Linked DNA regions of Homo sapiens. The protein of the gene in region 1 purifies or fractionates together with the protein of each later gene. This does not show direct contact. Each region holds a gene or a part of one and is shown in the gene's direction. Other genes may lie near its edges.

What was found.
Region 2: the proteins of MBIP (region 1) and GMCL1 purify together in Homo sapiens (affinity purification with mass spectrometry; 3 studies listed by BioGRID and IntAct, with this or other methods). This does not show direct contact.
Region 3: the proteins of MBIP (region 1) and TPRKB purify together in Homo sapiens (affinity purification with mass spectrometry; 4 studies listed by BioGRID and IntAct, with this or other methods). This does not show direct contact.
Region 4: the proteins of MBIP (region 1) and STXBP4 purify together in Homo sapiens (affinity purification with mass spectrometry; 3 studies listed by BioGRID and IntAct, with this or other methods). This does not show direct contact.
Region 5: the proteins of MBIP (region 1) and PHLDB3 purify together in Homo sapiens (affinity purification with mass spectrometry; 3 studies listed by BioGRID and IntAct, with this or other methods). This does not show direct contact.
Region 6: the proteins of MBIP (region 1) and OSGEP purify together in Homo sapiens (co-immunoprecipitation; 3 studies listed by BioGRID and IntAct, with this or other methods). This does not show direct contact.
Region 7: the proteins of MBIP (region 1) and ZNF131 purify together in Homo sapiens (affinity purification with mass spectrometry; 3 studies listed by BioGRID and IntAct, with this or other methods). This does not show direct contact.

Annotation. Positions count from the first base shown.
Region 1 is NC_000014.9:36,298,050-36,300,857, reverse strand, and holds the end of MBIP (MAP3K12-binding inhibitory protein 1), read left to right. Parts: intron 1-34; coding exon 35-73; intron 74-1,667; coding exon 1,668-1,775; 3' UTR 1,776-2,294; downstream 2,295-2,808. UniProt on the Homo sapiens protein: Inhibits the MAP3K12 activity to induce the activation of the JNK/SAPK pathway. Component of the ATAC complex, a complex with histone acetyltransferase activity on histones H3 and H4.
Region 2 is NC_000002.12:69,843,140-69,846,660, forward strand, and holds part of GMCL1 (germ cell-less protein-like 1), read left to right. Parts: coding exon of another isoform or gene 1-9; coding exon 10-122; intron 123-991; coding exon 992-1,057; intron 1,058-1,445; exon of another isoform or gene 1,446-1,728; intron 1,729-3,521. UniProt on the Homo sapiens protein: Possible function in spermatogenesis. Enhances the degradation of MDM2 and increases the amount of p53 probably by modulating the nucleocytoplasmic transport.
Region 3 is NC_000002.12:73,729,353-73,731,860, reverse strand, and holds the end of TPRKB (EKC/KEOPS complex subunit TPRKB), read left to right. Parts: intron 1-1,124; coding exon 1,125-1,301; intron 1,302-1,831; coding exon 1,832-1,918; 3' UTR 1,919-1,988; downstream 1,989-2,508. UniProt on the Homo sapiens protein: Component of the EKC/KEOPS complex that is required for the formation of a threonylcarbamoyl group on adenosine at position 37 (t(6)A37) in tRNAs that read codons beginning with adenine.
Region 4 is NC_000017.11:55,167,764-55,170,968, forward strand, and holds part of STXBP4 (syntaxin-binding protein 4), read left to right. Parts: 3' UTR 1-3,205. UniProt on the Homo sapiens protein: Plays a role in the translocation of transport vesicles from the cytoplasm to the plasma membrane. Inhibits the translocation of SLC2A4 from intracellular vesicles to the plasma membrane by STX4A binding and preventing the interaction between STX4A and VAMP2.
Region 5 is NC_000019.10:43,477,664-43,480,756, reverse strand, and holds part of PHLDB3 (pleckstrin homology-like domain family B member 3), read left to right. Parts: intron 1-1,163; coding exon 1,164-1,380; intron 1,381-2,624; coding exon 2,625-2,710; intron 2,711-3,093.
Region 6 is NC_000014.9:20,445,882-20,448,858, reverse strand, and holds the end of OSGEP (tRNA N6-adenosine threonylcarbamoyltransferase), read left to right. Parts: intron 1-47; coding exon 48-126; intron 127-687; coding exon 688-753; intron 754-864; coding exon 865-955; intron 956-1,168; coding exon 1,169-1,244; intron 1,245-1,338; coding exon 1,339-1,437; intron 1,438-1,579; coding exon 1,580-1,619; 3' UTR 1,620-2,458; downstream 2,459-2,977. UniProt on the Homo sapiens protein: Component of the EKC/KEOPS complex that is required for the formation of a threonylcarbamoyl group on adenosine at position 37 (t(6)A37) in tRNAs that read codons beginning with adenine.
Region 7 is NC_000005.10:43,137,914-43,141,413, forward strand, and holds part of ZNF131 (zinc finger protein 131), read left to right. Parts: intron 1-1,251; coding exon 1,252-1,396; intron 1,397-3,500. UniProt on the Homo sapiens protein: Plays a role during development and organogenesis as well as in the function of the adult central nervous system. May be involved in transcriptional regulation as a repressor of ESR1/ER-alpha signaling.

The DNA of each region.
Region 1 (2,808 bases):
TTTTCTAAACATTACCTTTTTTTTTTTAATCTAGAGCTTTTCTGGAAAAAGAAGAAAAGTTCAACCACCTCAAGTAAGTTACTGCATTTTCATTTTGGTTTCTGAAATAGTTTGATTAGTTTTATACCTTTCTTATTAATAAAAGTTTCTACTATGGTTGCTTTTAGGTCATACCCTGGTAAAATTTAGGACTGAAGAAAAGGGCAGTATAAACTAATACAGTTGAATAGAAAAATTATTTTAAGGGCATGGAATGACTCAGATAGGTTAAATAAATAAAACCTTTGTCCTGCTTTTAGTAGTACAAGGATGTGTCATTCACAAAGTGCTTAAAAATAGTAAGTGCTCAAGTAATTTCAGTCTCCCCCCATCCCTTCCTTTTGTGAACACTTCTAATTAGCAGCACCTAGATCAAAAAGGGTGTTTGGCAGAGTTTGACTTCAGCCAGCCCTGTCTAAAGTGCTACTTTACTAATTAGTTGAACCTTAAATAGTAAGGCTTTGCTAGAATTTAACAGTGGTAATGTGAATTTAAAGTTGGAGAAAACTTTCTGATTTTTAAGAGTAGCATATTTTTTTCTTGTAAAATTCTGAGTAAGTTTTTTGATAGCAGCTATTTTTTCCCGAAGTAAATTATTATAGTTGATCCCTCAAGAGAGAATTTCTAAGTATTTTAAGCAGCTATTTTTAAAGTTAACTAACTTTTTTTACTATTGATTATGAGAATAATCAGGTTTTTAAAAGTTATTCTCTTATGTAGTAAACTGTAACACTTCGTTGCTGCTTTAAAAATACAATTCACATAACATAAAATTCATCATTTTAAAGTGGCTATTAGTATATTCACTATGTTGTGCAACCATCACCACTAAGTCTAGAACATTTCCATCACTGCCCCCCCAAAACCCTGTATCTATTAGCACTCAGTCCCAATTTCCCCTTCTCTTTACCCCCTAATAGCCACTACATAATACTTGTGTCTAAATTAGAAATATTAATATATAAGTGAGGGTGTTCACATAGGTAGACTTGAATAAATCCAATTTTTATTGGAAGGTAAAAGAAGTATTTTCTTCACTATTTTCCACTTCAGGTTAACTTTAGTAATCAACATAGAAAGTTTTCCATTAAAAGGGATAGTTGATGTCTCAAATGATTTTTTTCTCCTGGTAGTAGTATAATTAGCATTTTTCTTCTTCTTTCCAACTTTTACTTAAGCTCAAGGGTTTTTCAGCTTTGTTACATGGGTAAATTGCATGTCATGGGGGTTTGGTGTACAGATAATTTTGTCACCCAGGCAATCAGCATAATACCCAATAGGCAGTTTTTCAGTCCTCTCCCTCCTCCCATCTTCAAATAGGCTCCAGTGTCTAATAATCAGGCTTTTTTTTTTTTTTTAACTTATTCTTTCTAAGTATAAAAGGTTCAGGAGAGCTTAGTCATTAGAAAAGAGAAAAAGAAATATTTAAGCCTTGTTATTTTATGCCTTTAAATTTATGATATAGTCAACATATATAGTTGCTCAGTTTTAAGATTATTCTCATGAGGGAAAAAAACCATTTGATCATGCTTTTGAATATTTTAAATATTTATAGTTCATTTGGCACTTTATCTGCATTAAGATACTTCAGAATCTTATTCAGCAATTTGTGTCGTTATTGTTTACAGCAGAACTATTCACTGGCTGAACTTGATGAGAAAATTAGTGCCCTCAAACAAGCCCTCCTCAGAAAATCAAGAGAAGCAGAATCCATGGCAACCCACCACCTTCCATGAAAAACTCCTCTCATCCTTGTCATTTTACTTTTTTGTATACATATGTGTAACTTACACTGTTATTAATTCAACGGATATATATTTATCAATGTAGACTTCTCTGTGAAGTCAAGGTTTATTTTCACATGAGTCCAGCTTGCAGCAAGTAATCTTCAAATATTCCAGTAAGTTTTGAAATAATGAATGCATTGAAAATAGCATTGTTGGAATTTATTCCCTTCTGTTTTAAAGGAGGTATTTTGGAAATTGAAAAACTTAATTTACAAGTGCTGGTACATCTTTTTTCTTTTGTGGACCACAGGAAGGAAGATTTATTTTGATATTGATACTTTAAAAGGACTTTATATTTGTAACATTGATGTTAACCAGTTTATTAGTTTAAATCAGTACTTTGCATATAATAAGCATTCAACAAAAATTTATTGACTGAAATGAATTTTAAATGCATGTGTATGAACTTGTTTTTCTTAATCTTTAAGATGTCAGTATTCATGTAAATAAACAATAGATCCAGCTTTATCCCTTTGACGGTGTGACTTTGATCAATTTACTTAATCTGTCTTTGTTCTTATTTCCCAGTCTGTGAAATGGGAATGACAATAGTAGAGACTACCTTATTGATTGTTACGAAGAAGAGGTGAGATCTTGCATGTTTGAAACTGTCTGTCCCAAGGGAATTGCTCAGTAGATGTTAGCTAATATTATAAAACCAGGTCTGTTTTTGGACAGCAATTAGGATATTACAAAGAAATTATAGTACCTCTCTTTTGAGAGCCTCCCCTTTACAATACCCCAGTTACATTAGGCAGTACATACATTACCACAGTTATAAATTAAACATTTGAAAGATGCAGCTACAGTTATGTGGAAATTCTTTCATGGAGCAGTTGTTCAGGTCAATAATTGTTTGGTGGTTCACTCCTGTAATCTCAGCACTTTGGGAGGCTGAGGTAGGAGGATCACTTGACCCCAGAAGGTCAAGGCTGCAGTGATGCACTGTATTCCAGCCTGGGTGACAGAGTGAGACACTGTC
Region 2 (3,521 bases), on another chromosome or scaffold:
TATTTACAGGACGGTTTAATACAGCAGTGTGGTGAGACAATGAAGGAAACAGTTAATGTGAAAACTGTATGTGGCTATTACACATCAGCAGGGACCTATGGATTAGATTCTGTAAAGAAAAAGTGAGTTGCCTTTCTTGTTTTTCTTCCTATCCCACTTTTAGGAATTTGGTTGCTTTAGTTTCTTAAGAGAATGTATAGCTATAAGAAAGAAAGAATTAAGGAAAAATAGGATAGGGGGATGGAATTTTATTAAATAAAAAGCCCCTTTTAACTTTTGGACTAATTAGTAAATTCCTCAAAAGTGTCGTCTTTGTAAGTGACCATAGGTGGGTTATATACATGCTTATAAAAACCATGGTCACCTTGGTCGGGTGTGGTGGCTAACACCTGTAATCCCAGTGGTTTGGGAGGCCAAGGCAGAAAGATCACTTGGGCCCAGGAGATTAAGACCAGCCTGAGCAATGTAGGGAGACCCCATCTCTACAAAAAATTTTAAAAATTAGCCAGGCATGGTGGCATGCACCTGTGGTCCCCACTATTCTGGAGGCTGAGGTCAGAGGATTCTTTGAGCCCAGGAGGTTCAAGACTGCAATGAGCCGTGATCATGCCACTGCACTTTATAGTATATTTTCTATTAAAATTGTTTAAGAAGTAGGCCTGATAGACTGACAGTCCTTCTAACTCTTGAGAGTTGCAGTACCTGTTTTGAGATTTTAAAGAAGGTTATACTAGTATGCAGACCCCTTAATAAACTATTTAACACAAACTCAAAATGAAGTTTTAAAACTGGAAATGCTCTCGTTAATATAAAGGAAATATTCTCTTAATAATATCCACTGACAAAAATAATACTAAATTTCCTATTGTTAAGCTAAAAGTTTTGAGCATGTTCTGGCAAGATTAATCTGATTTTATTTTAACTATAAGTCCTACTTAATAAATTGTAAATACATGGCATATAATGTAATAATTATATATTTTAATTTCAGGTGCCTTGAATGGCTTCTAAACAATTTGATGACTCACCAGAATGTTGAACTTTTTAAAGAACTCAGGTATTTGAATTTCAAGTAACTTCATAATTAGTCATCCTAAAATATTGTTTATCATTTGTTAAAGTACATAACATTTTTGTAGAACACAAAAATATATTATGAAAAAGCAAACAATTTAATGAAAGGGCTTGACTACATCCATAAACTGAAGAAATGCTGTGCAAACTTATTTCTTTGTTGTGAATAATATAATGGATATTATGTCTACTGTTTTAACCGAAAAATGCATTACTGTTATAAGACTATAGAAAAGTTTCAGGTTTTGCCAGGCTGTTAGAGAATTTAAAAGTTATATTTTAAAAATCATCTTTTTTATTGAGAAATAAGTTTGAAGAAACTGTTTTGGCCTTTTTTTTTTTTTTTTTTTACCTTCAAAAACTTTTCATGTTGATCCGTTTTCTCACTAGGATGAATTCTCTGATGTGGAGTAACAAATGTGTGTCTCCTATAAATGTATATTTTTCCATCTCTGATTATTTCACACCTTGAATCCAAATCTGTAGTCCCAGCTACTCTGGAGGCTGAGGCAGGAGGATTGCTTAAGCCATAGAGGTCAAGGTTGCAGTGAGCTGTGATTGCGACACTGCTCTCCAGCCTCAGTGAGAGTGAGACAAGTTACCATGGTTCTTCACCGTCACCTCCTGGTACAAGGTCTTCTGAACCAGGTCAAGGTATTCCCACTCCTGATGAGAGAAGTCTGTGGCCATGTCCCTGAATGTTACAAATTCACAGGCCATGGTTTTAGACAAGCAAAAGCCAATCAGTCCTCAGGGTTTCTCTACCAGAAAAGCGATTTGGGAAAACCTAGACCTATAATCCCAGCACTTTGGGAGGCCAAGGTGGGAGGATTGCTTGAATCTAGGAGTTCGAGATCATCCTGGGCAACATAGTGACATCCCCTCTCTTTGAGAAAATATCAATCTTCCTTTAAAAAAAACCTGTTAGCGCCACACAGGGTCCCATGCAGGCTTCAGGCTGGGGCTGCAGAGGCTCCTGCAGTCAACTGCGCCGCCTTCGTCCTCAAGCGGGACCTGGTCAGACGCAGCACAGCGCAGAGCCAGAGGTCCTGGAGATGGAGCCAGAGGTCCAAGATTTCTCCATCACCTGTGGACTATGTAGTCCAAGCTGGAATAATAGGACCGCAGTCACCCGTGAGAAATGGATTCCAGGGTTCTAAAAACCTACAAGAAATATGGCGGTGACAATGAGGACTGCCCACCCTGCCCACCACCCAAGCTGCAGAGCAGCCTTTCTTTTTTAAAGAGATGGGGGCCTTGGTATGTTGCCCAGGCTAGACTCAAACTCCTGAGCTCAAGCAGTCCTCCTGCCTCAGCCTCCAAGTAGCAGGGATTATAGGCACATACCACTGCACCCAGCTTAGTTTGGCTTTTTGGATTAAGTACGCATATTATCCATTTATTCCTGCAGCAAGTACTTCCTGACTGTCCTTTATATGTAAAGATACTCTATTAGGGGCTGTGAAGAATGCAGAGATGATTTTGTCATGGTCTCTTGCTGTCAAAGAGCTTATTTGTAGTAATGGGACTAAGATATTTGTGATGGGTCTGAGAAAATCTGGCTAGCAGTTAACTTTTGAAGGCTGGTTGGCATTACAGTCATTTTCTGGCTTGCATTTCCCTGACAGCAGTGCTTCTGAGACAAGGATACAAATGTGTCCGAGAGTATGTGACATTCTGATGGAAATGTACAAAACCAAAGTCAAACATTACATAGCTTCCCAGAATGTGAATTTTACTGATTTTTTTTTTTTTTTTGGTGGGGAGGAGGTGGGGAAGAGGTAAATATTTTTATGTTTAAATACATTATGGAATAGAGGGAATTCAAATTTCCTTGAACTCTCAAGATACAATTTATAGAAATGTTACTTTTTATGGTTAGACCACCTCCTAGATTATGGGGTTTTTTTCCTTTCTTTTGCCTTTACGAGATAATTTGGTAGAGAAGTGTGAGAGACTTTCATCACCTGGTGATGTCAAGGCATAAATAAATCACCGTAGAATGTTTGATTTGAAAATCGTTAGAAACACTTTAATACAGTCAACCCTGCTTATCCATGGGTTCTCCATTTGTGGATTCTACCAACTGCCGATTGAAAAGATTTGGGGGAAAAACTATAAAAAATAATAACAAAAAAACCCAATGTAGTATGACAACTATTGCATAACATTTACATTGTATTAGGTACTGTAAGAACACCTAGAGATGATTTAAAGTATATGAGAGGATGTGCATAGGTTACATGCAAATACTATGCCATTTTATATAAGGGACTTGAGCATAGAGGATTTTGGTATTTGTAGGAGGTTCTGAAACCAATCCCCCACAGATACAGGGGGATGACTCTAATTTCTCACTGAACTTTTTGAAAAAGGAGCAGGATCCTCTTAAAAACCCACGTGCTCTCTTGGCTTTTTATGGCTCAAAGGAAAGAAAGAACAAAGGA
Region 3 (2,508 bases), on another chromosome or scaffold:
CATTAGGCGTGGATATTTTGTGTGCTAGCCTGCATATCATTCTCTCTTCCCGTAAACTCCTTGAGGGTGGGATCCATGTCTTTTTCATATACCAGGAACTTGCTTGTACCTATAACAGTCCTTAACACAGCCTCACTCACACACCCAGTACATAGGTAGAGTTTGTGGTTTGAAATACTTATAGTAATGCTTTTTCAATGAAAGTTATCAAGCTAAAGACATCACACATGTAGCACATGAAAAAAATGACTGCAATTTTGCTGATGAAGTTTTAGTATTACTGCTGCTGTTAATAACAACCAGGTACTAATGTCATCTACAGGAAACCTGTAGCATAGGTTAAAATACAGATGATTGACAAGTTTATAAAATGCAGTTATCTCAGCATGGTAATAGAGATTCCCAGTACCTGGAATAAAATTTACTAATTATGGTTTCCTTGAGATCATTAGACATAATTCAGAAAACTCTTGAATTCAGTAAACATCTGTTGAACTTTTTCCCCGTTCCATTTACAGTTCTAGGGGCAGAAGAGGCAAATATGTTCCTGAGGAGAGGCAGATAAACAAGACAAGTTAAAATGCCCTAAGATAAATGATATAATGGGAAAATGAATTCAAATCTAGGGGTACAGCAATGAAGCCATTCATTTTGGAGGGAGGAGGGTGTGGTGGGGAGTGGCATCAGAACTGTGGACCCTGAAGCATGTGTTCAGCAGCCAAGCCATGAGGAGAAGGGACATGCGAGCAGAGGACAAAGCTTGAGCACAGGCAGAAGGGCATGAAATGTGACTGGATCCCCAGGCAGGCTGGACTGGCCAGAAGGCAGAAGCGCCTGGCTGGAGGGCCACTTGGCACCAGAGGGAGGAGGTGTTTTTGTGCAGCGCCAAGAGGCTGGGCTTGATTCCATAGGAACAAGGCGTACCTTTAAGCAGGGAGTGCTTTTGAGGAAGTGCCAATGGATGTTGGAAAGGAATCATTAAAGTGAAAAAGTAGGCAGTGAGAACTGTTAGGACATGAAAAATAAGAGCCTGACCAAGGAAGAAGGCAGATCAGGAAATGTTTCAGACGTAGGAAACAATGGTTAATGATCTTGTGTTTTTTTTTTCATTTTTTTTCTCTTAGATTTCAGAGGCTTTGAAAAAATTTGGTATCTCAGCAAATGACACTTCAATTCTAATTGTTTACATTGAAGAGGGAGAAAAACAAATAAATCAAGAATACCTAATATCTCAAGTAGAAGGTCATCAGGTTTCTCTGAAAAATCTTCCTGAAATAATGAATATTACAGAAGTCAAAAAGGTTTGCCAGTCCATATTTTTAGAAAGAGTGTGATAGATGAGCAATAATGCTGATGCCGTTTGCCTATTGATCACCAGAGCTCCTTGTTTTTTGAACTTTTGAGAAAGTTAATCTAATTTTAAAAATTACTTAAAAATTACAGATACAAAGAACTGGGAGGTGTGATGGTTTATGTAAAATATAATTACAAACTCAGCTGACATAACCATTCTCCACATTAAGAAAGAGAATACCTTTAAATATCAAACTTACATAGTATATTTAAAATGTAAAATAAATTTAGTATGCTTTTAAAATGGATAGAAATTTGGTTTTTATGTTCTTGAGAGTTACTCCCATAGCAGCAATTTAAAGGGGATACAAGTAATGAATTGCCCTCTACTTTGAATATTTTAATCACATTTGTTGTTTGTTATACCATGAACCCAATAATTGAATGAGGAATAATTTCACTTACACATGTTTGTATAATGACAATTAGTAGTGAATGACGATATCAGCAAGTCATAATTTGTCTTTCATTTTTACAGATATATAAACTCTCTTCACAAGAAGAAAGTATTGGGACATTATTGGATGCTATCATTTGTAGAATGTCAACAAAAGATGTTTTATGAAATGTCAGAAATATTAACAAAAATTCTCAGCATTAAAGAAAACATTGATTTTCCTTTCCTGACTATAAAACTAATTGTGCATTATAGAAAAGTTTAAATCACAGAATGGTATTAAAAAAAAAAAAAAAAGGCCAGGCACGGTGGCTCACGCCTGAAATCCCAGCAATTTGGGAGGCCAAGGCAGGTGGATCACCTGAGGTCAGGAGTTCAAGACCAGCCTGGCTAACATGGTGAAACCCCATCTCTACTAAAATACAAAAATTAGCTGGGCATGATGGCAGGTGCCTGTAATCCCAGCTATTCGGGAGGCTGAGACAGGAGAATCGCATGAACCTGGGAGGCACAGGTTGCAGTGAGCTGAGATCGTGCCATAGCACTCCAGCCTGGGCAGCTGAGCGAGACTCCGTCTCAAAAAAAAAAACCAAAAAAAAAAAAAACAAAAAAACCACTTGTAGTCCTACCTCGTTGTATTTTAAAAGATAATCAGTTACTATTACTTGTTATTGCCTTCTAGAGTTCTGTTTCTATTCAAATATATTTTATTTTTATATAATTAGAATAAAAATTGCAAACACTTATGGAATGCCTAC
Region 4 (3,205 bases), on another chromosome or scaffold:
ATTGCAGAAATTATCTCATCTATAAGTAACCCCACTGGAATTGCTTGACTGTTCTGTTTCACAGTGGAGAAATTCATCTTTCATCAGCACACACGAGAAGAGACAACAGGAAGACAAAACAAATTGAGTAGATAATAAAGTTACCTTATAGGAATAGGTAATATAGACAGGTAAGGTCAGAAATTTCTGTGGAATGGAATATGAAAAGATGTTTATGAGCAGATTCTATTTCTTTAGGCAGTTTTATCATTCAGAGAAGTAATCTATGCATTTAATCTAATGCCAGCTTTTATTTTTCTTTGGTGATTACCACACAAAAATAAGAAGTTGGCACCAAATTAAATGCATGGATTACTTCTCTGATAAAAGTACTCGATATAAGGGAAATTTGAAGGAAATAGAATGCATACATACACACACATACACTTAGTATATGTGTGTGTGTGTGTGTGTATATATATATATCTGTGTGTATATACACACCACACACACACACACACACACGTATTGGAGGAATAAGAAATATTTAATAAAATCTACACAATTTCAAAAATATGACCAAATACTGGTGGTTCCTCATTTACCAGTAGAACTCTCTCTACAAATGGAAAGTGAGAAGTCTATGAAGTTACCTTAGTTTTTCCAATTAAGACTGTTCATTGATTGTATTTCTTCTGTCTCTATAAGTACCATATTCCCAATTAGTATTTCATCAGTTATAAGACCCATCATTATTTTGTGTGTAACTGAAAATGAAAAAAAGATTTAAAATATGACTTAGTAGTTAGAATTTTTATCTTATACGCCTTTAAGTAAATACAAGAGAACTGTTTCAGCATAGATTTTTAAAAATCATGTGTGTAAAAGAGAATGAAATATTAATTATGATATTTACAAAGCTCTGTACATTCAGAATTGAACTCTTTCTGCATCTCTTTTTTGAATCAGAGTTGTCATAAACCACAATTTTTCACGGTAACACCCTCTCTGCCATCAGGATAAATAACATTTCTTAAAGGAATATTCTACTGCAGTCTCTGAGATTTTTTTCCCTGTCTTAGACATCCATTCTACAACTCTGATGCTGGCACATTTTTTATCTTGGCAAAAGGACTTAATAGAAAAATTTTAGATAACAATCAGGATTCATACTCTTCTCAATAGTCCTTAAATGGTTTATTGACCAAAAAGTAAAGAAGTAACAGTCCAGTCATATCATGGAAAGAACAACCAAATTCATGCATGCACAGGCAAAGACAACCATATCACTATGACCACCTGGCTGACAGTAACTGCAGGACATCAATTATTGTAAGACACTTCCTGTAATATGTTTAATTCCTCTGACATAAGGATTTATGTGAATTAGGAAGTGGCCCAAGGGTGAAAAGTAATAGGGAAATAGAGAAATAGAACCGATCCAAAGGAAAGGGGGAAAAAAACCCACAAAAAGTGTGATGTCAAGCAAAGCCTATTCTGGAGATGACTTTGGTTCACTCCCACGGGAGAGCCCTAGAGACAAAAAGGTTCTACAGTAGGTTCAAGTCAGAGGCCAGAGAACCCAGAGTATTTATACCTCTGCACCATCAGTTATTGAATGGGGGTGGGGGTGGGGGTGGGTGTAAATTTCCAGGTGCTTCCAGCCTGCAATGCAGTCAAAGCATGTTCCTGTAGCCTGAGGACAGCCGTCCAACAAAGAGGTGCAGGTGCTGAATGTTGAGAGTGAAAGCACAGGGAGCTGTCATGCATGAGAGTGGTAGAGGGATCTGAAAGTGCTAGCAGTGCCTATTATACATCCAAATACTAAAGACGCTTAGATGTGAAAAATGTGTGTCTTAGAATCGATAAAATATGGTATAGAGAATCAAGTCTCCTTGTTCCTGGTTTATCTCATAGCATACTTAAAATTCAGCTAAAGATGAAATGCCTTAACAAGTGAAATGGGCTTTCTGAAAAATTATTTCAATCAAAATTGTGTTAAAAGCTATTTCTAAAAACCCTAACATGAAATACTTAGAAGAGATCAAGTGGTTTGTCCCTGGACATTCAAGCAATTGAATGTCTAAACAATCCAAGACAGATAATTTTGTAGTATTTACTGTGTGAAGTGAACCTTTAAGGCTGTGGACAATGCAAACTCCCTCATGTACCTTGCTCCTTGCCAATTTCAAACAAACCTTCTCACCTATGATATAAGGCTTCCTTAGAATTATTGATTAATTATTTAAGATACAATAAAACCAAAGTATTTTTAAAACACAGTAATTATGTTAGTGCAGGTACATGACATAGATATCCTCAAATATTCTTAGGACATCTATAAATCACCACAAACATTCTGGAAAGCAGTCTTGGAACATCTATCAAAGGCCTTAAAAATTTCTTCTTCTGTGAATTTATCCTCACAAATGACCCCAAGTTTAGACCAAAATAAAAAAATGCTTAAAAGGCTTATTAAAGCATGATTTAAAATAGAAATGATTGCCTAAATTCCTGAAAACAGGGGAATGTCTAAATAAAATATGGTATCTAACATGATAGAAAATGTTTACTAATGTTTAATGATACCAAGAAAGTATCACAATAATAACATCAAGTGGTAATAACAGGAAACAGATCTGTATACAATATAAAACCAACAGTATTGTATATATAAACACCATAGAAGATCTGAAAAAAAATTAGATGACATTATTTGTGATATCTATTTTATTTATTATATTTTTCTGCATACTACTCTACAGTGAGCCTGTCCTTTATAAGAAAAAATGCTAATGATTTATTGTGTATGAAAAAAGTGTATCTGATTTGATTATATATTTTTATTTCCACTTATATTTTCTAGGATTATTTTGCTTTAGAATTCTATGTATAATCCTGTGAAAATTTGTAGTGTTGTAGGGACTGGAAAGATCAGAGATTATGTTATGGCCATGAATGAGGCCTGACCTGCATTGTCAATAACTAAATTGATTATTGTGGAAACAACAAAAAAATTCATTTTTTGAAATGAAAATCTTTATTGAAATAACTATTTTACCATTGTGTGGTCAGATTCACTGCATTTGATGCTTTTTCAGGATTTGTTTTTCCTGCTAGAAATGCTAGAGTTGTCACAGATGTGATATTTATGTTTTCATTGTCTGGGGAGGGCCAAGTTTCATGACAGAGAAAGACTGGGGCCAATTCTGTGATTATGGATGTC
Region 5 (3,093 bases), on another chromosome or scaffold:
CTTGGTTTCCACATCTGTGAAACGGAGATAAATGTACTTACCCCTTCAGGAGAGTTTGAGGGGGCAGAGATTATACCTAGAAAGTACTTAGCAGAGGATTATATTCATTAATTTCATCACAACAATAATAATGTAAACAAGCTCTCTCTTTCTTTTTTATTTTTGAGACAGGGTCTCACTCAATCACCCAGGCTGGAGTGCAGTGGTGCAATCATAGCTCAATGCAATTTCGATCTCCTGGGCTCAAGTGATCCTCCTGGGCTCAGCCTCCTTAGTAGCTGGAACTACAGGTGTGCAGCACTAGGCCCAGCTAATTTTTTGGATTTTTAGTAGAGATGGGGTCTCACTATATTGCCCAGGCTGGTCTCCAACTCATAGCCTCAAGTGATCCTCCCACTTCAGCTTCCCAAAGTGCTGAGATTACAGGCATGAGCCACTGCACATAGCTTCTCTTCTCTCTCTCCTTTTTTTTTTTTTTTTTTTTTTTTTTTTAAATAGAGAAGGGGTCTTCTGTGTTGCCCAGGCTGGTTTCCAACTTCTGGGATCAAGGGATCCTCCCACCGCAGCCTCCTGAGTAGCTGGAATTACAGGCTTAAGCCACCACACAGGCTCCAATCTTCATTTCTTTTTTCCAAAAAAAATTTTTTTTTTTCAGAGACAGGATCTCACTATGTTGCCCAGGCTGCCCTTGAATTCTTAGGCCTAAGGGATCCTCCTACCTCAGCCTCCCAAAGTTCTGAGATTACAGGCATAAGCCACCACACCCGGCCCGATCTTTATTTCTTTTGATAGGCCTCTGATGTTTCAGGGTGAGCTCTAGGGTCAGAAATACCTGGGTTCGTGTCCCAGTTCTGCTGCCTAGAAGCTCTGTGTGACCTCGGGTGCATTATGTCATCTCTCTGTACCTCATTTTGCTCATTTGTAAAATGGGGCTCACAGTTGCCATGAAGTGCCAAGGAGCTGATGTCCATAAAGTCCTGGGCAGAGCATCACAGTCAATCCACGTAGCCGTTGCATTTGTCAGATGGTCCTAGTTAATATTACCCTCTAAAGGCTGTAGCGGGCCTTACATGCAAGCTGCTATGACTTGCTCCCCTCGAGGGGCTCCAGGCTGTAGAATCCCCCGCCCCTTACATCAGCTGCCCCGTCTCTTTGCTCCCCAGGCCCCACCCACCCCACCCCACCCTCCAGGCCCGCGAATCTTGGATCTCCGGCAGCATCTGGAGGGATGGGGCCACAACCCGGAAAACTGCCCACATGTGCAGGTGTCTGGGTGCTGCTGCCGTGGACCCCTGGTGAAGATGGGCGGCCGCATCAAGACCTGGAGGAAGCGATGGTTCTGCTTTGACCGCCAAGCCCGCCGCTTGGCCTACTATGCGGGTAAGCCCAGCCTGGCCACCATGGGCCCCAGGACGCTGGAATTCCACTCCGGAGGCCTTTCCTCTACAGGCACCAGAAGTCCTGGCCCCCACTTTCCATGTTCCCCAGGATCCAGAAGTTTGGTTCCCTAGCTCCTAACTTCCCTACAACCCAGGAGTCCAGGCTCCCAGCTCTCTCTCTCCTCCAGACCCTGGAATCCAGATCCCCAGCCCCTCTTTAAGCCACCCAGAATTCAAACCCCCAGTCCTCCTCAGGGACATAGATAACAGTTTAGTACAATTCAAGCTTCCCAGGGCCCATGTTCCTAAGACACCCATGAGTCTGAACCTGCACTGTCAGCTGCCCCCAGCCCCCCAATGGCCAGGAGTCTGGGGCCCTTGTCCTTCTTCTCTAGGAGAATCAATTATTCCAAACCTCTCCTTGGACACTTTTTTTTGTTTTTGTTTTTGTTTTTGTTTTTTGGAGACAGAGTCTTGCTCTGTCGCCCAGGCTGGAGTGCAGTGGTGCGATCTCAGCCCACTGCAACCTCCACCTCCCCGGCTCAAGCGATTCTCCTGCCTCAGCCTCCTGAATAGGCGGGACTACAGGCTCATGCCACCACACCTGGCTAATTTTTTGTATTTTTAGTAGAGACAGGGTTTCACTGTGTTAGCCAGGATGGTCTCGATCTCCTGACCTTGTGATCTGCCTGCCTCAGCCTCCTAAAGTGCTGGGATTACAGGCTTGAGCCACTGCACCCAGCCTCCTTGGACGCTTGTATTGTCTCAAATCCTTCTTCCCTAACCTGTATGACCATTTGACTCTACTTGGTGAGTCCTGGCTCTGTCAGCTCTGGCTGTGTGACTTGTGCTGGGTGCCTTAACTTCTCTGAGTCTTGGTTTCCACATCTGTCAGATGGAGATAAATGTACTTACCCCTCCAGGAGAGTTTGAGAGGGTTAGAGATTATACCTAGAAAGCACTTGAGCACTCCCTGAGTTCCTTCCCTTCTCAGAGGCCGAGCATTCAGGGCCTAGGATTCCAGCTCCACAGACCCCACTCCCCAATCATGTCCAGTTTCTGTGCCCAGTCTCCCATCCAGCGTTAACATTCACTCACCTCCCAACCTTTAGAGACCTTCAGACTCTTGTCACCATGTTTCTTACCCAAATCCAGTCTCAGGACTTAGGGCCAATGACCCTCACCTCGACACACACAGACACACCTTTCTCACTGGCTCTCTTTTTCTCTTACCTCCCCTACCAGACAAGGAAGAGACCAAGCTCAAAGGTGTCATCTACTTCCAGGCCATTGAGGAAGTCTATTATGACCACTTACGCTGTGCCTTCAAGGTGAAGCCCCTCAATGTCACCCTGACCTCCCAGTTGGAGACTCAGTTGGAGTCAGGCCTTATCTCATCCCTGGCTCATCCTGGGGAAAGCCACCCGCAGCTTCTCCTGTCAGGGTACTCATAGGAGTACGTGTTTGTCGCAGAGAAAACAAACAGGTCACCTGACTGCAGGGACTAAAAATTAAGAGCCCAGACTCTGGCCTTCAGCCACTGTTAATTTTCTTCTTTTTTTTTTTTTTTAAGACAGAGTCTCATTCTGTCGCCCAGGCCTGAGTACAGTGGCGCCATCTCGGCTCACTGCAACCTCCGCCTCCCTGGTTCAAGCAATTCTCCTGCCTCAGCCTCCTGAGTAGCTGGGATTACAGGCACCGTGCCCGGCTAATT
Region 6 (2,977 bases), about 16 Mb from region 1:
GCCAGCTGACTGTAGGCTTAGTGCCTCGTACGCTTATTCCCACATAGAGGCAAGAAGCTAGTTGAGCTGCCATACACTGTAAAGGGGATGGACGTCTCATTCTCAGGGATCCTGTCTTTCATTGAGGTGAGTGTGAGAGGTGATGAGACGGGCACTTTCATGCTTTTTAAATGAAGCATATCTGTTTTACTTACGATTATATTTCGTATAGCTCAGTATATTCATGTAGCACAGTACTGGTCCATATCATGTGCTGGGTAAATTCATTTAGAAGGTATTCATTGAATATCTCTGTGTGCCACATGCTGTTCTAGATAGTAGAGATGCAGCATGGAGCAAAACAAAAATCCCTGTCTACATGGAGCTTAGATTCTAAATGGGGGGCGGGGGAGATAAGAAAGAGGAAAATAATGAAGTGCCAGATGATGATGAGTACAGGTGAAAAATTAAGCAGGATAAGTAAGGGGTGAGAGATGTCAGGACAAGTATTCAAAAAGTAATGATTGCATCTTAAATGAAAGCTGCTCATTCTATGCCATGATGCCAGTGAAGGGAATGTGGTACAGGATGTGCTGGTAACTTGAATTGTGGTGAAACATGATGACCCTCCGAATGCATTAATTTTTGCTCTCGTGTAATCCCAAAACCATGATTTGTTGATTCTTTTGTTTTTCCCTTTAATTGTAGGATGTAGCCCATCGGATGCTGGCCACAGGCGAGTGTACTCCTGAGGATCTGTGTTTCTCCCTGCAGGTAATGCAGTAAAAAACTGGGACAGAAAGTTGGGGCTGAAGGTTTTATATTGTAGAGCAGAACTAATCTGGGATGCCCCTCTAATATTTTCTCCTTATCTGTCCCTGACAGGAAACTGTGTTTGCAATGCTGGTAGAGATCACAGAGCGAGCCATGGCACATTGTGGCTCCCAGGAGGCCCTCATTGTGGGAGGAGTGGGGTGTATGTATTATTGAAAAGTGTTCCTCTTTCCTATTCTTAACACTATGCGTCTTCCTCCTGGTACTCTAAATCATTAAGCGTTTGGAGTAGGCTTCCCAATCCTTGCCCCTAATCCCCTATGTCATTGTTCTAAGTGAGTGCACATGACGTGTTCTGCTGGACCATGAAGAGATGGCTAAAACTAAGCTAATCCTGTTCCCTGCCTCTTTGTAGGTAATGTGAGGCTACAGGAGATGATGGCAACAATGTGCCAGGAACGTGGAGCCCGGCTTTTTGCTACAGATGAGAGGTAAAGACACTTTCCCTTTGGTTTCTTTTTTACTTCTCCTGTTATAGTGATTTTCCACCCTTAGATCCCAATTTTCATCTCTCTTGCATCCCAGATTCTGTATTGACAATGGAGCGATGATAGCCCAGGCTGGCTGGGAGATGTTTCGGGCTGGACACAGGACCCCACTCAGTGATTCTGGGGTTACACAGAGGTGAGTGATTCACCTCTTGGTGAGGGTAGATTATTGGGACATAGACAAAAACAGCAGGGAAGAGTCCAGGAACATGAGGGCAGAGAAGAATGAAGGATGTTAAGGGCTCGCTCTCCACCATGTTTCTTCTGTTTTTCCACAGGTATCGGACAGATGAAGTAGAGGTGACCTGGAGGGACTAATAAGATCAACAGAATCAGAGTAGATAGTTCCTTAATCGGAACCCAAAGGACCCCGTGCCTCAATCTCTATCCTGATGTCATGGGAGTCCTAGCAAAGCTATAGACTCCAAGCAAGGCTTGGGGTCCTTTATGGAACCCCAGGATGACTCAGCAATAAAATATTTTTGGTTTTTTGGTTTTGTATGTTGGTGATTGGATTGTGTTGTTCAGGACCAATGTAGATTTGGTGCTGGATAAATTCTTGTTGGAGCTTGCTGCTGTGGAACCAAGAATGAGGTATCTTTTTTTTTTTTTTTAAGAAACGGAATCTTGCTGTGTTTCCCAGGCTGGTCTCGAACTGGGCTCAAGCAGTCTTACCACCTCAGCCTCCTGAGTAAGGATGCCATTGTGCCTGGCAACAATAGTAGTATCATAACTATTATTATAGCATCGGGTCCCGTGCTAACTGCTTTACATTCATTCTCTCATTTAAATTCTTTGAAGTAGGTGTGCAAGACTTCTCTCAAAATAGCCTGGAGGCTCACACCTGTTATCCCAGTGCTGTGGGAGGCCAAGTCAGGAGGATCCCTTGAGCCCAGGAGTTTGAGCCCAGCCTGGGCAAATAGCAAGACACCATCTATTTGAAAAATGTAAAAATTATCTGGGCATGGTGGCGCACATCTGTAGTCCCAGCTCCAAGGGAGGCTGAGGCGGGAAGATAGCTTGAGCCCAGGAGTTTGAGGTTGCAGTGAGCTGTGATTGAGCCACTGCATTCCAGCCTGAGTGACAGAACAAAACCTTGTCTCTTAAAAACAAACAAACAAACAGCCTGGAGATTGGTCTAACTTGTAACTCTAAAACTGCCTCTACTCCGTATACTTTCTCCTACATGCACATCCATCGGCAGGCTTGAGGAATGCCCGCAGATGCACATCCCTCCGTACCACAAACAACAGAACGAATCTCATACCCTTAATCTTATTGATGTTGATATCAATCATCACAATTAGTCCTAAACTACTGAGTCATCTCATCTTTTACACTTAATAACCATGTATCTCCACTCTGTTTTGTCTCCATCTACCTACCTTTTCCAACTCTAGAAGCTCTTCCACTGTGCCCTCTGGAACTGATGGCCAGTCATTTGTCAAATTCTCTGTGTCCTCAACCTCTTCTCTGAACGTTCCCTTCACATTTATGCTCTTCAGACTTGGTTTCTTATGAGGACTCTGCTTCTCCTACCACCTCAGTAGTGGTGGCATTTTCCCTTCCACACCCAGTGTCCCACTGGGCCTGGAGGTGGTGCACGTGTCCTCATACTGTTTCCAGACCATTATCCCTCATCCCTAGTACCCTTCTGCTTTGAAAGAAACTACCAT
Region 7 (3,500 bases), on another chromosome or scaffold:
TATGCAACCACATGGATGAACCTTGAGGACATTATGCTAAGTGAAGTAAGCCAGTCACAGACATAAACTGCATATTTCTATTTATATGAGGAATCTAAAATAGTCACTTCCACTCATATGAGCTATCTCAAATAGATTGAAAGAGTGGAATACGGGTTGCTAGGGGCTGGGAGGGAGGAGGAAATGGGCAGTTACTAATCAGTGGGCATAAAGTTTCAATTGCGCAAGATGAATAAACTGGAGGTCTGTACAACATTGTACCTAGAGTCAACAATAGTGTACACTTAAAAATGTGTTAAGTGGGTAGATCTCATGTTCTTATTACAATAAATGTTAAAAGGTTTCATTGAACATGTGACATTAGAGTTGGACCTTTAAGGGGTGGGTGGTAGGATGAGTATAACCAGAGATGAAATGATTAAGCATCCAACTAGGAGGGTGTTAATAAAGGCAAGTCAGGCTGGGTGCGGTGGCTCACGCCTGTAATCCCAGCACTTTGGGAGGCTGATCGGGCAGATCACTTGAGGTCGGGAGTTTGAGACCAGCCTGACCAACATGGGGAAACCCCATCTCTACTAAAAATTCAAAATTAGCCAGGCGTGGTGGTACATGCCTGTAATCCCAGCAGCTCGGGAGGTTGAGACAGGAGAATCTCTTGAATCTGGGAGGCAGAGGTTGTGAGCCAAGATCACTGTATTGCACTCCAGCCTGGGCAACAAGAGTGAAACTCCATCTCAAAATAAATAAATAAAGGCAAGTCAGCTATTAGAAAGTGCAGGGTTTGTTTGAGAAATAGTATATAGTGTGTGTGTGATGTCGTTTAAAATTTGGAAAGGTAAATAGGAAAATAATGTGAAGGGCCTTGAAATAAAGTCAGAGAGGTACTAAATTTTGTTTGCTAAGTTGTGAAAAGCTATTGAAGATTTTGGAGCTGAGTTGGCACAGCTGTAATCTCCCTGGCAAGAAATGTAGCATGTCTGACATGTAATAGCCAATTCATATATTTGAGTGATAGAATCTTACTGTTCTCCAAGAGCCTCAGGAAATTTAAAGTAGTTTAAGATTTTCCAGCTAGGTAGTGCTGAAATTTGGCTGTAATATTATTGTATTGCTAATGAGAATTTTTCCAGAAAATAGTTTTCAAAAATAAATACTCAACAAGCTCCAAGCCCTGGGCTTTTCTTTCTTTACTAAACATTGTAAGATTTGAGTCAATATGATTACATGCTCTAATGTACATCTTCTTTACAGGTGTTAGTAAAATGGCCTTTCGCCATTTAATTGAGTTCACATATACAGCAAAATTAATGATACAAGGAGAAGAAGAAGCCAATGATGTATGGAAAGCAGCAGAGTTTCTACAAATGCTAGAAGCTATCAAAGCCCTTGAAGTCAGGTACTTAATTTCTTTAATGGGGTTCAGATAGTCATATTCAGTCATGTTCATTCTGTTAGTGAAGAACTTACAGTATGTGTCATGCCATGAAGAACAGAGTTCTTCAGAAGAATTAAGAATATTTAAGGATCTATTAAAAAATTTTCTGGATACTGATTGTTCTTTCACTTGACTTTGATTTTCTGATCATGTGTTAAAACTGCTAATATTAAAGTAGCATCTTTGGTATGTAATAAAATAAATCTAGACAGCTTTTTAAGGATCTGGATCCTTATAAACTGTTTTGTTGGATTCAAGTTATTGTTTATACCAAGCCTTATCCTACAAAGGGTTTGGCTTACAAAGATTAACATAATACTGTTTAAAAATAAGGAAATAGATGGAAATAAATAAATTGGTTTAATAAGGAGATAATCATTTCAAGTTAGAAGTATGATAGCCAAAAATGCATACCATAAGTCTATAGTAGATGTGCTAAATCTAGCTCTAAGTGCACCTAGTTCAAAGAAAAAGACTATTCAGTTACATTATTCCTTGTTAGAAGATGAGAACAAATCAATTGCTGAGGAGCCATTCCTATTCCTAGTATTAAAATTTCTCCTGAGAAGTATTAAGAAAACATTAGGCCAGGCCCAGTGGATTACGCCTGTAATCCCAGCACTTTGGAAGGCTGAGGTGGATGGATAGCTTATGCCCAGGAGTTCACAAACAGCCTGGGCAACATGGTGAAACCCTGTCTCTACAAAAAATACAAAAATTAGCTGGGCATGGTAGTGCATGCCTGTGGTCCCAGCTACTCAGGAGCTGAGGTGGGAGGGGAGGATCACCTGAGCCTGGCAAGGTTGTGGCTGCAGCGAGCTGTGATCACGCCACTGACTGCATACCAGCTAGGGGGAACAAAGTGAGACCCTGTTTTTTTAAAAAAGAGAAAACGTGAAAGGATATAATGAACAAAGACCTCAACATCCTTACTTGATGAATAATGGCAGTGTAACATAGTTACTAAGAATAAGAGCTCAGGAGTCAGTTTCCCTGGGTTAACATCCTGCTTCTACCACTGTGTGGCCTTAATTAAGTTACTTAACCCTCCTGTCAGCTGTGTCCTCCTCTGTCAAATGAGAGTAATAACGGTACTTTCTACATGGGATTTGATTGTGAGGGTTGAATGAATTAATGCATGCAAAGTGTTTAGCATGGTGTCTGGCTAAATGACTCTGAGTACTCTAAGTATGAACTATTATCTCCTGGTACTGTTTTTTATGTTTCTCAATACAGATCATTGGCCTGATGCCAAAACAGTTTGGTAAAATCAGTTTCACATAGCGGCACAATGATTTAATCTTAACTCACTGTTGTGGTTTAGTTAAAAGATAAAATTTATTTCTCTGAGGACTCTACTGGAATTTTATTTTATTTTATTTTTTTGAGATGGAGTCTTGCTCTGTCTCCCAGACTGGAGTGCAGTGGCACAATCTCGGCTCACTGCAACCTCCATCTCCTGGGTTCAAGCAATTCTCCCTGTCTCAGCCTCCTGAGTAGCTGGGATTACAGGTGCCTGCCACCATGCCCAGCAAATTTTCGTATTTTTAGTAGAGGTGGGGATTTCGCCATGTTGCCCAGGCTGGTCTCAAACTCCCAACCTTAAGTGATCCGCCTGTCTCAGCCTCCCAAAGTGCTGGGATTACAGGTGTGAGCCACTGTGACTGGCCGAATAAAAGTTTTTTTTTAAGAGATAAAAATTTAGATAACTCTAAGAATACTGAACTGTACTCGTCCATAAATATCATCTCTTAGTTTGACAGTTCAAGATTAAACCTTTCTGACAAGAGCTTGATACGTATATATATTCTTTGATGCTTAGCACCTGGCATATAGCAGGTGTACAGGAAACATTTGTGAATAGATAGATGGATACATGCTAATTAAAACCAGATCAGTACTCTTGCAGAGAGACCTGAGCATGGATGTCAAAATAGAGATGCATTCTGAGGATATAAACCTGATCAGGCCATCTCTTCTCAAAAAGATTAAAGGAAATATATATGGATGGGGCGATGTCAGATTGTGGTTAAATATTGAATGAGAGCCTTCCAAAAGAATGTTC